2 separate regions of the Homo sapiens genome follow, and region 2 is linked to region 1. Evidence: fine-mapped expression QTL. Tissue or cell type: cerebellum. Region 1 holds a variant in brackets; the other region holds the start of a gene. All regions are shown on one strand. Distances are from middle to middle.

Region 1 (5,213 bases):
TCTAGTGGGTAAGGGCTTCCTGGACCCCAGGCCTGAGGGGTGACTTCTCTTGCAGTAAGCGGGTAGGGCACTGCCTGCGCTGCTCCAGGCCCTGCCTGCAGTGGGGCTACAGATCCCTGCTCCCACCTCCAGGCAGGGCTGGAGCTGCTGCCAGCTCCCCCAGGACAGCCTCGAGCCAGGTGCCTCTGCCCGGGCTGACCCCGCCCTCGGTCCCGGTCCTGGCTCCCTCTCCTGCCTCTCCTCCCTGGCCTGGCCTTCACTTCCTGCTGACCCTCAGGAGGGCGTAAAAGAATGCAGGACCTGCTGCATTCCAGCCACCCTGGCCCAGGGTCCCAGAACAGGATGAGACAGGCCCCTGAGGCGGCAGTCCTGAGGAAAGTTGCTGGAATTCCTGCTGACAACGCCCCCCCTTGACCCCACCCCTCTGACCAAGCCAGGCTCCTGCTTCCACCTCTCCACTGTGCCTGACCTAGGCCAGCACCAGGAGGGCCTTAGAGGCGGGGGACGAGGCCCAGAAGGAACAGTGTGGCCCCGTCAGTGTGGAGTCCTGAGCTTAGGCAGCCGGAACCACTTGCCCCCTCACTGTATAGCTGGGACGAGACCTCATCCCTGTAAGCCCCGGTTTTCTGGTTAATAAAATGAGGATTGCGGCAGCCTTCATCACAGTGCGATGCACACCCTTTAAAAAATGCAGTTTTTCCTGATGCCACACACCCATTCCAGGTGGGCCCTGAGGTGTGCACAGCAGGGCTGAGAGCTGACTCAAAGCCTGTCCTGTCCCCACTCCCCACAAGGAGGTGAAGCTGTCTCTGATGGCAGTGCCGCTGTCACTGCCTCGGACGCTGGAGCAGAGTAGCTCATGGCAGGCTGCAGAGGAGGGGACTCCACAAGGACACCAGGAGGCACAGGGTGCACCCTGCAGGGCTTGGGGCATGGTCCAATGACCCTTTCATGGGGCCTGCCAGCTGCACCAGAGCACACCTGCCCCCATACCAGACTCGTGCCTGGGGTCCTGCAGGGCCACTGCCTCTGACCAGCCCACTGTTGGTGGGATCTGCCGTCCTTGCAGTGGGAGCTTGGTGCCCCCCAGGGCTGGTGTGGGAAGAGAGGGGGATTGGATTCCTTCCTCCTTCCCCATCCTCAGACATGGGCCCAGGCAAGGGGTGCCTTTCGGGCCTGGGAGCCTTCTCCACACTTGCACACAGGAACCTGAGGCCAGTTCTTTGCTTGCAGCTGCTGGGACAGCAGGCTGGGGGGCAGGACTTGCCCAAGGGGCCTCCTGCCCTGTAGAGGCAGCCGTGCTCTTGTGTCACGTGTGGGAAGCTACGGGACCGAAGCCAGGCCTTTTCCTCCCTCCACACCCCGACCACTTCTGCCTTCACCCAGGGCACCCCCCAGGCTGGCCCACCCCTGAGCTGTGCTCCACCCTGGGTCTGCCATCCTGCCCAGGAGAGCCTGAGGGTGCCCTCCTGGCTCCCAGTGCTGTCCCAGCCCCTCTCCCTCACACTGGCCTTTCCCCACAGGTGAGCACCTGCGGATCTGTCCCCAGGGCTACACCTGCTGCACCAGCGAGATGGAGGAGAACCTGGCCAACCGCAGCCATGCCGAGCTGGAGACCGCGCTCCGGGACAGCAGCCGCGTCCTGCAGGCCATGCTTGCCACCCAGCTGCGCAGCTTCGATGGTGAGTGCCTCCCACGGGCGCTCGGGGCCCGCAGGGTGCCGGTGCATCGGGGGAGGGGCACACTGGGCCTTGCCTGGTGTGTCAATGCCAAGGGTGGGGGATTGGCAGGAGGAGGTGGGGGAGTTAGTGCTTTGGGGCTAGGGCGCTGGGTTGAAGCCCCAGCTGGGATTTGGGGGCTGCCCTCAGGCAGGGATCTGCAGGGTTTGACACCCCCCTGGGAGTGTGCACAGCCCATTCCCAGTGCACATTTGGGGACAGAGGGCCTATCCCATCAGCCCCTCAGAGGCTCCTGTCACCAGCAGATTCTCCTGAGCACCTGCAGGGAGACAGGCCTTGGCCAAATCCTGCCTGCAGCTCGTCAAGTGCCCCAGGCCACTGCCCCTGGGGACCAGGTGGCCTGGAGCCAGGGAGCTCAGTGCAAGGGCTGAGACTGGGGCTGGGGACAGGGCTGCAGAGTGCAGGGCCTGCCTGGGGTGGCCGCCACTCAGCCCTTTATATCGGGGCAGGAGTCTGGGGGCCGCGGGGAGTGACCCCTGCAGGCCTTGAGGCCCCGCCAGCTGCTGCATTAGAGCCACGTACTCCTCGGCCCAGGCTGGGCCTCGCCTTGTGTCTGGGCAGAGAGTGGCAGCCACCCCCAGGGGGACAGTGTGGGGTCAGGAGGTCCTCCATGAAGTGACCTCTGATCAGAAACACGAGGACTTGGTGGAGGGAGGCGGCCCGGGCTGAGGTACTGCCCCTGTGTCCGGGCGGAGCCAGGGCGCCGGGACAGTGAGCCTGGGCAGACAGGAGGGAGGGAGCGCTGAGGCTGCAGGGCTCCATTGTGGCTGTGAGGGACGGCAGCTGCTGCTGGGGCCCTGGGGTTTGTCTCAGCGTTCCTGCTTCTCCGGCTCCTGGACACCTGCTGTGGCCTCCCAGGCTCCCGGGAGAGTCTGCCTGTCCCCAGGAGCCCCCAAGGCCATTTCCACAGGGCTG[T/C]GGGACCTCAGCTGTTGGCGTACACCTGGGTAGCAGTGGGTCAGAAGCTCCCTCTCTGTGACTTGGACATCGATGCTCAGAGCTCAGCCCTCCCCGCTGGTGTGGGGCCCGTGGGATGCGCGTGGCCCCTCTGGGACTCTCCTTCCTCCTGCCCAGCTGGACCCGGGGAGCGAGCCCCTGCACCCTGAGTCAGGAGCCTTCCTGAGCCACTTGGTTCTGTCCCATGTGTAGGGACCCGGCTCACCTCCTCCACTCTATCCTGGGCCTCAGTTTCTCCCCAGCGCCGCTGAGCCCTGGCTCCCGCCCCAGCGTGCCACCCAGCCCTGCCCCTTCCCCTCTCCTGCTAATACCCTTGCCCATCACACCATCCTCCTGGCCTGGGGACATCCTGCCCGCCTGCTTCCTCCTGGCTCTTAGGGGGTTGGTGTCGCTGCCCTGCTCTGGGGCCTGTCCCGTGTCAGTGCCCTGCCGCCGCCCTCCCTCTGCTGCCCTCTGGAAGCCTCCAGCCTTCCTGTTCAACTCTCCTATCTTTGACCTGAAAACACAGACACCCTTTGGGGACATTTGTATTAAAAATGACCCACTATGTGATGTGCCCAAGGCCCACCTGTGCCCCTACCCCAGGGAGTCTTGTCCAACCCCCACCTCCTATGTCCTCCCCTCCCACCCCTGCCCATGGCAGCTGCTGTCCCCTCCCAGCCTCCGGGGCAGCTGAGGGCCCCTGGGTCTTTGTCTGCAGTGCTGGTGGGAACCAGTGGGAGGCGGTAGGAGGGGAGCCTGGCTGGACCTCTGGTTGCTGTGTTCAGGGATTTGGAGCCCTGTGTCCGCCCCCCCACCAGCCTTCAGGAGCAGCTGAATGGGTTCTGGCAGGAGGTAGAGCTGGGGACTGCACCTGGATTTGGCCCATGGCCCTCTAGGTGTGTCTGGGCTAATGCATGAACCACAAGCCGCCCCTTTCCGGGACAGGCCAGGGCGTTCCAGGCGCCAGGACCCAAGGTGGACACTGGACAGCTGTGTGGCCCGTCCACCCTCCCCACAGCGGCCTGGGAGCTCTCTGTAGCCCTGCCAGCCCTGAAGCCCCAGGCCTTGCCAGGGGTCAGCGTGGGGGCTGATCCAGAGATCTCAGGCTTGACGGCCCCCGTGCCTCAAAGGAGAGCCTCTGCCCTGCTACCCTGGAGCACCTTGTGGTGGGCCATCGAGCCCCCGGTACCTGTGGGGCAAAGCCGGCCACAGCCCTAGGGACGCTCTGAGCAGTTACAGACCTGGAAGTCCCACTTCCAAATGGGATGGGGAAGTCCAGGGTCCCATCTAGGCCCGGGGTACGGGGGCTTTTCCCTAAAGCCCCTGCAGCACATGTGGAGGTCTGAGGGTGAGCCTGTGCCTCCACACCCCCTGCCCAGCAGGGGAGATGTCTGGGGTTCTAGGCTGCAGGAGGCCCCCCAGAGCCCTCAGACAGGCCCGGGGTGCTCACAGCTGAAGCTTCTAAATCGCAGAAGCTGAGAGAAGACAAGAAGCCTAGGAGAGCAGCCGAGACAGGGTGGCGGGAGGGGCAGCAGCCCTGGAGACTCGCAGGGCAGGCGGCTGGGGCCACGGGGAGCACAAGTGGGGACCAGTGGAGAGAAGGAGCGGCTGGCAGGGGGGCACAGACCGGCCCTGCCCCTCTTACCCCAGTGAGTCCCCATCTCCACCAGCAGCCCCTCCCTGGGTGTTCTCAGGGGGTCACTGAGTCACAGAGCATCTGTTCTGCCCAGGGCTCAGCTCAGAAACTGCCACTGGAGCCCCAGTCAGAGGCCCTGAGACCCGAGAGGACCCCCTGCCACCTGGGCCCCTGCTCCCCAGGCCAGGGGGTGAGGTCTCGGGGCGCCCCATGGATGCCCACAGGGCCCACAGCCGCTGCAGTGTGGCGTCCGACTCCGAGGTCCTCAGAGTGTATCCTCAGAGCTGAGTCTCCCGGGCTGAGTCCCCTGCTCTGGTCCAGCTGCCACGGCGGGGGAAACATGGTCCCGATCACGCCCCCTCCCTGTGCGCAGACCACTTCCAGCACCTGCTGAACGACTCGGAGCGGACGCTGCAGGCCACCTTCCCCGGCGCCTTCGGAGAGCTGTACACGCAGAACGCGAGGGCCTTCCGGGACCTGTACTCAGAGCTGCGCCTGTACTACCGCGGTGCCAACCTGCACCTGGAGGAGACGCTGGCCGAGTTCTGGGCCCGCCTGCTCGAGCGCCTCTTCAAGCAGCTGCACCCCCAGCTGCTGCTGCCTGATGACTACCTGGACTGCCTGGGCAAGCAGGCCGAGGCGCTGCGGCCCTTCGGGGAGGCCCCGAGAGAGCTGCGCCTGCGGGCCACCCGTGCCTTCGTGGCTGCTCGCTCCTTTGTGCAGGGCCTGGGCGTGGCCAGCGACGTGGTCCGGAAAGTGGCTCAGGTGCGCACAGCCACCCAGGGCTCTCAGAAACCCCTCCAGACCCCCATGCTCTGCCCAAGGGACTTCCTCTTCCCCCTACTTTAACCCTGTGCCCCTGGGCCTCTGGGCCAGCCTCTGACCTCAGCCCCACAGCCTCA
Region 2 (5,213 bases), 25 kb before region 1:
CTCTCGTAGGTAGGGATGCTACAGGCAGTGACATTCACAAGAAGGCAGCCATGGATGGCAGCGACAACAATCGCTCAGTCTGTTTGGAAACTTACTTTTGGAGTCTCCGAAAGACAATCCCTGAAACCAAACAGAAAGGGAAGCTGTCCGTCCATGGCAGCGGGCAAGGGCGTGCACACTCACGAGGGTTCCACGGAGCAAAAGTAGGATAATTTCTGGGCAGACCTGCCGTCCGAACGGCTGGGAGCTGCGGGCCCCCCGGCGCTCCCTGTGTCTTCTGAGCAGAGACCAGGCTCAGCATCCCGCAGACCCCCACCCTCCCTAGGCAGAGGCAGGAGTGGGCCCTAAGCCAGCAGTACACGCCCTCCAGGACCTGGGGTCCTCCACAGAAGATGGGGGCATGGAAGGGAGGCCCCCACGCCCTGGCCCAACAGGCACTGCCTGCCTCAGCCCGTCAGACAATGCTAAGTGTCCTCTGCCCTCACTGCACCTGTGGAAGAGCAGGTCCAGGCTGCGCCACACGCCCACTCTCAGGGACAAACTTTTCCTCTCAGGTGTTTCCTCACTTGCTCATTCATTCCTTCTTTGTGTCGCATACGTGTGCCCCCACTGTCTAGCCAGGCAAAGACACCAAAGCAGGAGGGGGTGGTCTTGGTCAGAGCCACAAGGGTCACTGTGGTGGCTGGGATTCGAGGCATCAACTATGTCCTCAAACCCATCCACGTGTCCTGTGTGGAGCGGCCCCAGGGACAGCGGTGGAAGAGGGGGCTGATCAGCCTTGCCCATCCTCCCAGAGTCCCAGTCTGGACCCTGCACCCGACTAGCACGGGCAGCCTGGCGGCTCCTGCCCTGGTGACAGCGGGCGTGTGCAGCATTGCCAGGAGGGAAGCAGGGGTAGCTGCAGCTGCTCAGGATCCTGCGGCTCCTCCCAGGTGCAAACACGGCTTTTGCTTCCAATGCCCCCGGCGGCATGTGCATCCTCTCCAGGGAAGGCCCTGGCTACAGGTCTCCTGGCCTGCGGAATGGGAATGATTCCAGGACCTGCGATGGTGGTAAGGACTTCCTTAGGAGATGAAGCCACCCAGGGGTCACCAGGGCCAGGCAGAGGCTGCCACCATCGCGTTCTAAGCCCTGCTGTCCACACTGCCATCCAGAGGCCCAGAACTAGGCTGGAGGAAGGACTTGCCTGGAGGAATAACCCAACCTGGTCAGATTAAGAGGAGGCGTAGACAGTGACGGGGTAACTATAGAGCCTCAGGCCGGGTTAACCTCAAGTCCAGCTTCCTAGGCCCAGGCAGCCCTGCCTGATCCCGCAGTGCGTGAGACCACACAGAGAGAGAGCGGGATCGTGGGCCCAGGCTCCTGACCGTGCTGGATAAGGTGTGCAGGCAGCCACGCCAGGCCCAGGCAAGAAGGAGCAAGCCTGGAGCATGTACTGAACAGGGGTCTGTGAGTCACAAAATGTGACGCAGCAGAGGGTATGTGGGGGAGGGCAGGGAAATGCACACTTGGATTGGGTCCCCAAAGCCTCCCTCTCCAGCAATGACTCAGTGTCTCTGGGTGAAGGAGCAACCTTCTCTGGGAGGCAGGGCAGGAAACCCCAAGAGCCCAGGGGGAGGGCACCCCACCTTCCTGCTCCAGCCCCACACAGCGGCTGAGAGCCCCAGGCACAGAAGGGGTAGGGAATGTTGCCACCACCCCCACCACGGACCCCGCTGCAGCTTCCAGGTGATGCCACAGGCCCTGAAATCAGGACACCCTTGCTGTACATGGGGGTCATCTTGAGGTTCTCTGCCAAGGATACTGACCTCTATGCCTGCCCCCAATTCTGCAGCTCAGGCACCTGGCTTCACCGCCAGGCCTTACCATGTGGAGAACAGGGGGCCGGGGTGGGGGGTCTGGGAGCCAAGGAAGGAGTGAAGCCCTCCAGACACCAACATCGCAGTCCTCGCCCCCTCCCTACAGACCCCATCCAGCCCAACTCCCCATGTGCAGCTAAAGCCACGCGCCCTCCTACCATACAAGGTGCAGGCAGCCCTCCCGCCTTCTTCAAAGAGGCATCTGCTCCGGCTCACTCCACCCTCCTCCCCCAGTGGCCTAACTAGTCGCCGGGTTCCAACCCTATCCCTTCTCCAGAGGTCATCTGGCCCCACCCAGCAGCCCAAACCAGTAGACCGGCCCTGCCCCATCACTTTGGTTTCTCCAGCATCCAAAGAACGTGGAGGGTCACCCCCCCAAAACAGCTGTCAAGGTCCAACAATTAAGCCATCTGTTGCCGCTCCCTGGGACTGGGAGAGGTGAGGTCGAGTTTCTTGGCGAGTTTCCTGCGTGCAGCCCCCACACCACAAAAGCCCCCGGTGCGAGCCGGAGCCCAGCGCGAGACGGCTGGAAGGGCGCGGGGAGGGAGCCGCTGCGGGGTGCAGGCGGGGAGAGGGGCGGCGGCTCGAGGCGCGGCCGGCGGGCGGAGGGTACGGAGGCGCCGGGAGAGCGTTCTCGGGGCGCGCTGCCAGGGTGCAGGAAGCCGGAGCGCGCGGGAGGGAGCGGGGAGCGGGATGCCGATTTCGGCTGGGGGCGGGGAGGCCCCTGATTGGGGCGCGGGAGGCGTGATGTCACGTCCGGCGGGGGAAGCCCTGCCTCGCGCACCCTCCGCCCCCGTCCCCGCCCCCACAGGTGGTGCCACCGCCCTGGGCGCTGGGCGTGGGGGGCCGCCCTCGGGGACCCCGGCCGCGGCCCCGCGCTGCCCGGCTCCGCCGCCTCCCGCCGGGGATCGATAGAGTCGCGCGGCCAGGCGGGCCCTCTGGGTCCCTAAGAGCCAGAGGAGCGCCCAGTGCGCCCCGGCCCGCGCCCCCGCGCCGCGCCCCGCCCCGCCCCGCCCGGTGCTCCCAGTCCCTCCCCCACCCCTGCGCTCCCACCCTGCCCCGCCCCTCTCCTCTCCCGCGGCCGCCTAGGGGCCGGGCCGGCGGCGGGGGAGGCGCCGAGCCGGGACTGCGCTAGCCCGCCGCGCTCTGGGCTGCCCGAGCGAGCGTTCGGACCTCGCACCCCGCGCGCCCCGCGCCGCCGCCGCCGCCGGCTTTTGTTGTCTCCGCCTCCTCGGCCGCCGCCGCCTCTGGACCGCGAGCCGCGCGCGCCGGGACCTTGGCTCTGCCCTTCGCGGGCGGGAACTGCGCAGGACCCGGCCAGGATCCGAGAGAGGCGCGGGCGGGTGGCCGGGGGCGCCGCCGGCCCCGCCATGGAGCTCCGGGCCCGAGGCTGGTGGCTGCTATGTGCGGCCGCAGCGCTGGTCGCCTGCGCCCGCGGGGACCCGGCCAGCAAGAGCCGGAGCTGCGGCGAGGTCCGCCAGATCTACGGAGCCAAGGGCTTCAGCCTGAGCGACGTGCCCCAGGCGGAGATCTCGGGTGAGTGAGGGCGCGGCGCCGGGAACCCGGGCCTGGCCGGGCTTTGGGCTCCGGACCCTGGTCTTCCCGACGCGGCTACTCGCCCCCGGCGCGGGATCCTGCCGCCTGCGCCCCGCCGCCCGGGCCCCGAATGGCTCCCTGCGCTGCGGCTCCTCTGCAACCCCACGGCCCTCGCCTCCAAGCCCCGCGCCGCACTCCCTCGCCAGGGTCTCCTCCGCCCCGCTCGGTCGTCCTCCGCCCCTCCCCGCCCCCCGCACGCCGGCTTCTTCCCTGCGGAGCTGATCTCGCCGGGCTGCGGGCTCGGGGCGCTCCTCCCGGGCCACGGCTGGAGCTGGGCGTCTTCTGCCCGCCGCTCGGCCCAGCGCGCCTGCAGGCCGGGAGTCCCAGCCCCGGGGCCGGCTGTCGGGGCGCTGTGGGGCTCGGCGTGGCCGGGCTTTCGGGGCGCCGCTGACGGTGGCCGCGGACCCCTTCTGCTCTGTACAGACCTCTCTGGGAGGCGTCTCCGGTCCTGCCCGGGGATTCTCGTAGGGTCTCCAGCAAAGGCAGCCTAGGTGGGTTTTATAAGCTGACCCCCTCGGGGGGTAGTGCGGAGGGGTGGGGAGGGAGCTGGGCACTTATCCGCGGGCGGAACGCCGCCGCCTCGTAGAGATTCCTGTCGAAGAACTTGTACGCGCCGGCCCCCGCCTGGCGCTTGGGCAGCCTCGTGCCGCGAGTCCAGCTGCAGGTGGTCGGCGCGTTGGATCCCGCCCAGGGGCCGTGTCATTTCTTTGTAAGAACAGCGGCCCTCTTGGCGCCCCCTAAGCCCTGCAGCCGCCTGCGGCTCTGCCTCTTCCCTCCCTGTGGTCCCGGAGGAGCTTTGGGGACAGAAGTGTACGGGTGGGTGGAACGGTGGGCTCCGTGTGCTAAGGAACTCTTGGAACCCAAGCTTCACCTTTCCACGTGTGGGAACCAACCTCGGTCTGTACCGCGTGCCAGGGACCCAGTGGGCAAGAACAAAACAGACTAGGTTCCTGCTCTGGGGGGCTCCTCTGAAACCAGGGGAGTGGGAGTGCGGGTGGAGGGCTACTCAGATGGGGACTCAGCGCAGAAATGCCCATGGTCCTGGGGATTCTGAGCAAGAAGGATCCGTGCATCTGGGTGAGGGGGGTCTGTGGCCATGCCTTGCCGCGGGGGGCGGAGTGGTGGGAGGAGGCAGTCGGGCTCTGGACCCCTGCCCCTCCAGGAGGAACAGAACCCACAGACAGCCCCTTGCCCTTGGTGGATCTCCCGATGCCCCCAGCCTGAGGTTCTTGTAAGGGCCCCCTGACCGCCCCCCACAGAAGGAACAGAACCCGCAGACAGTCCCTTGGCGGATCTCCCGATGCCCTCCCCACCAGCCTGAGGTTCTTGCAAGGACCCCTCCAAAGTCCCCAGGACAGGCCTTCCTGTGCCTCTGCAGAGGCAACCCTGTCATTTCCAGGCTGCCCCCCTCACCCCACTGGGCTCTGTCTGTCCCAGGTAGGGGGCACACCTGGATGCCAGGCAGCACAAGGCCCTCGGCACAGTTGGGTTCGTTCTCTGCCCCTCTACTCACACATAAAGAGGCATCCCTGGCCTTCCTGGTGAATCCCTCCCCAGGCACCAGGGTAGCAGAGTGGCTGAGTGGCTGCCCCTCCCAGCCCAGAGTCTTGAACCCTGCTCCTTTGGAAACCATTAGCCCCCAGCCCTTCTTAGCACCTCCATGTCCTCTGGGCAGTTGCATCCTTAGGAGCCAACCTAACCTTCCTTGCATCCACAGGCCACTGTTGCCAGTTAGAGAGACAGAGTGGCAGAGTTTGG

Evidence for each region. PIP is the estimated chance that this variant, and not a neighbour inherited with it, causes the effect.
Region 2: GPC1 starts here. The variant in region 1 is fine-mapped to the expression of GPC1 in cerebellum (GTEx, PIP 0.95).

Annotation. Positions count from the first base shown.
Region 1 is chr2:240,457,507-240,462,719 of GRCh38, forward strand. It overlaps GPC1 (glypican 1), which reads left to right. Exons shown (of 9, transcript NM_002081.3): 2 at 1,524-1,682; 3 at 4,685-5,076. Among named protein-coding and RNA genes, the nearest start is that of GPC1-AS1, 3.4 kb to the left of the region's middle. RefSeq lists enhancers at 398-1,049, 1,050-1,699, 1,700-2,350. The variant T/C (reference allele first, on the strand shown) is at 2,655.
Region 2 is chr2:240,432,690-240,437,902 of GRCh38, forward strand. GPC1 (glypican 1) reads left to right here and starts at 2,974. Exons shown (of 9, transcript NM_002081.3): 1 at 2,974-3,395. The coding sequence starts at 3,230. RefSeq lists enhancers at 1,343-1,637, 2,037-2,613, 4,347-4,923, 4,975-5,213 and silencers at 2,443-3,102, 3,163-3,222.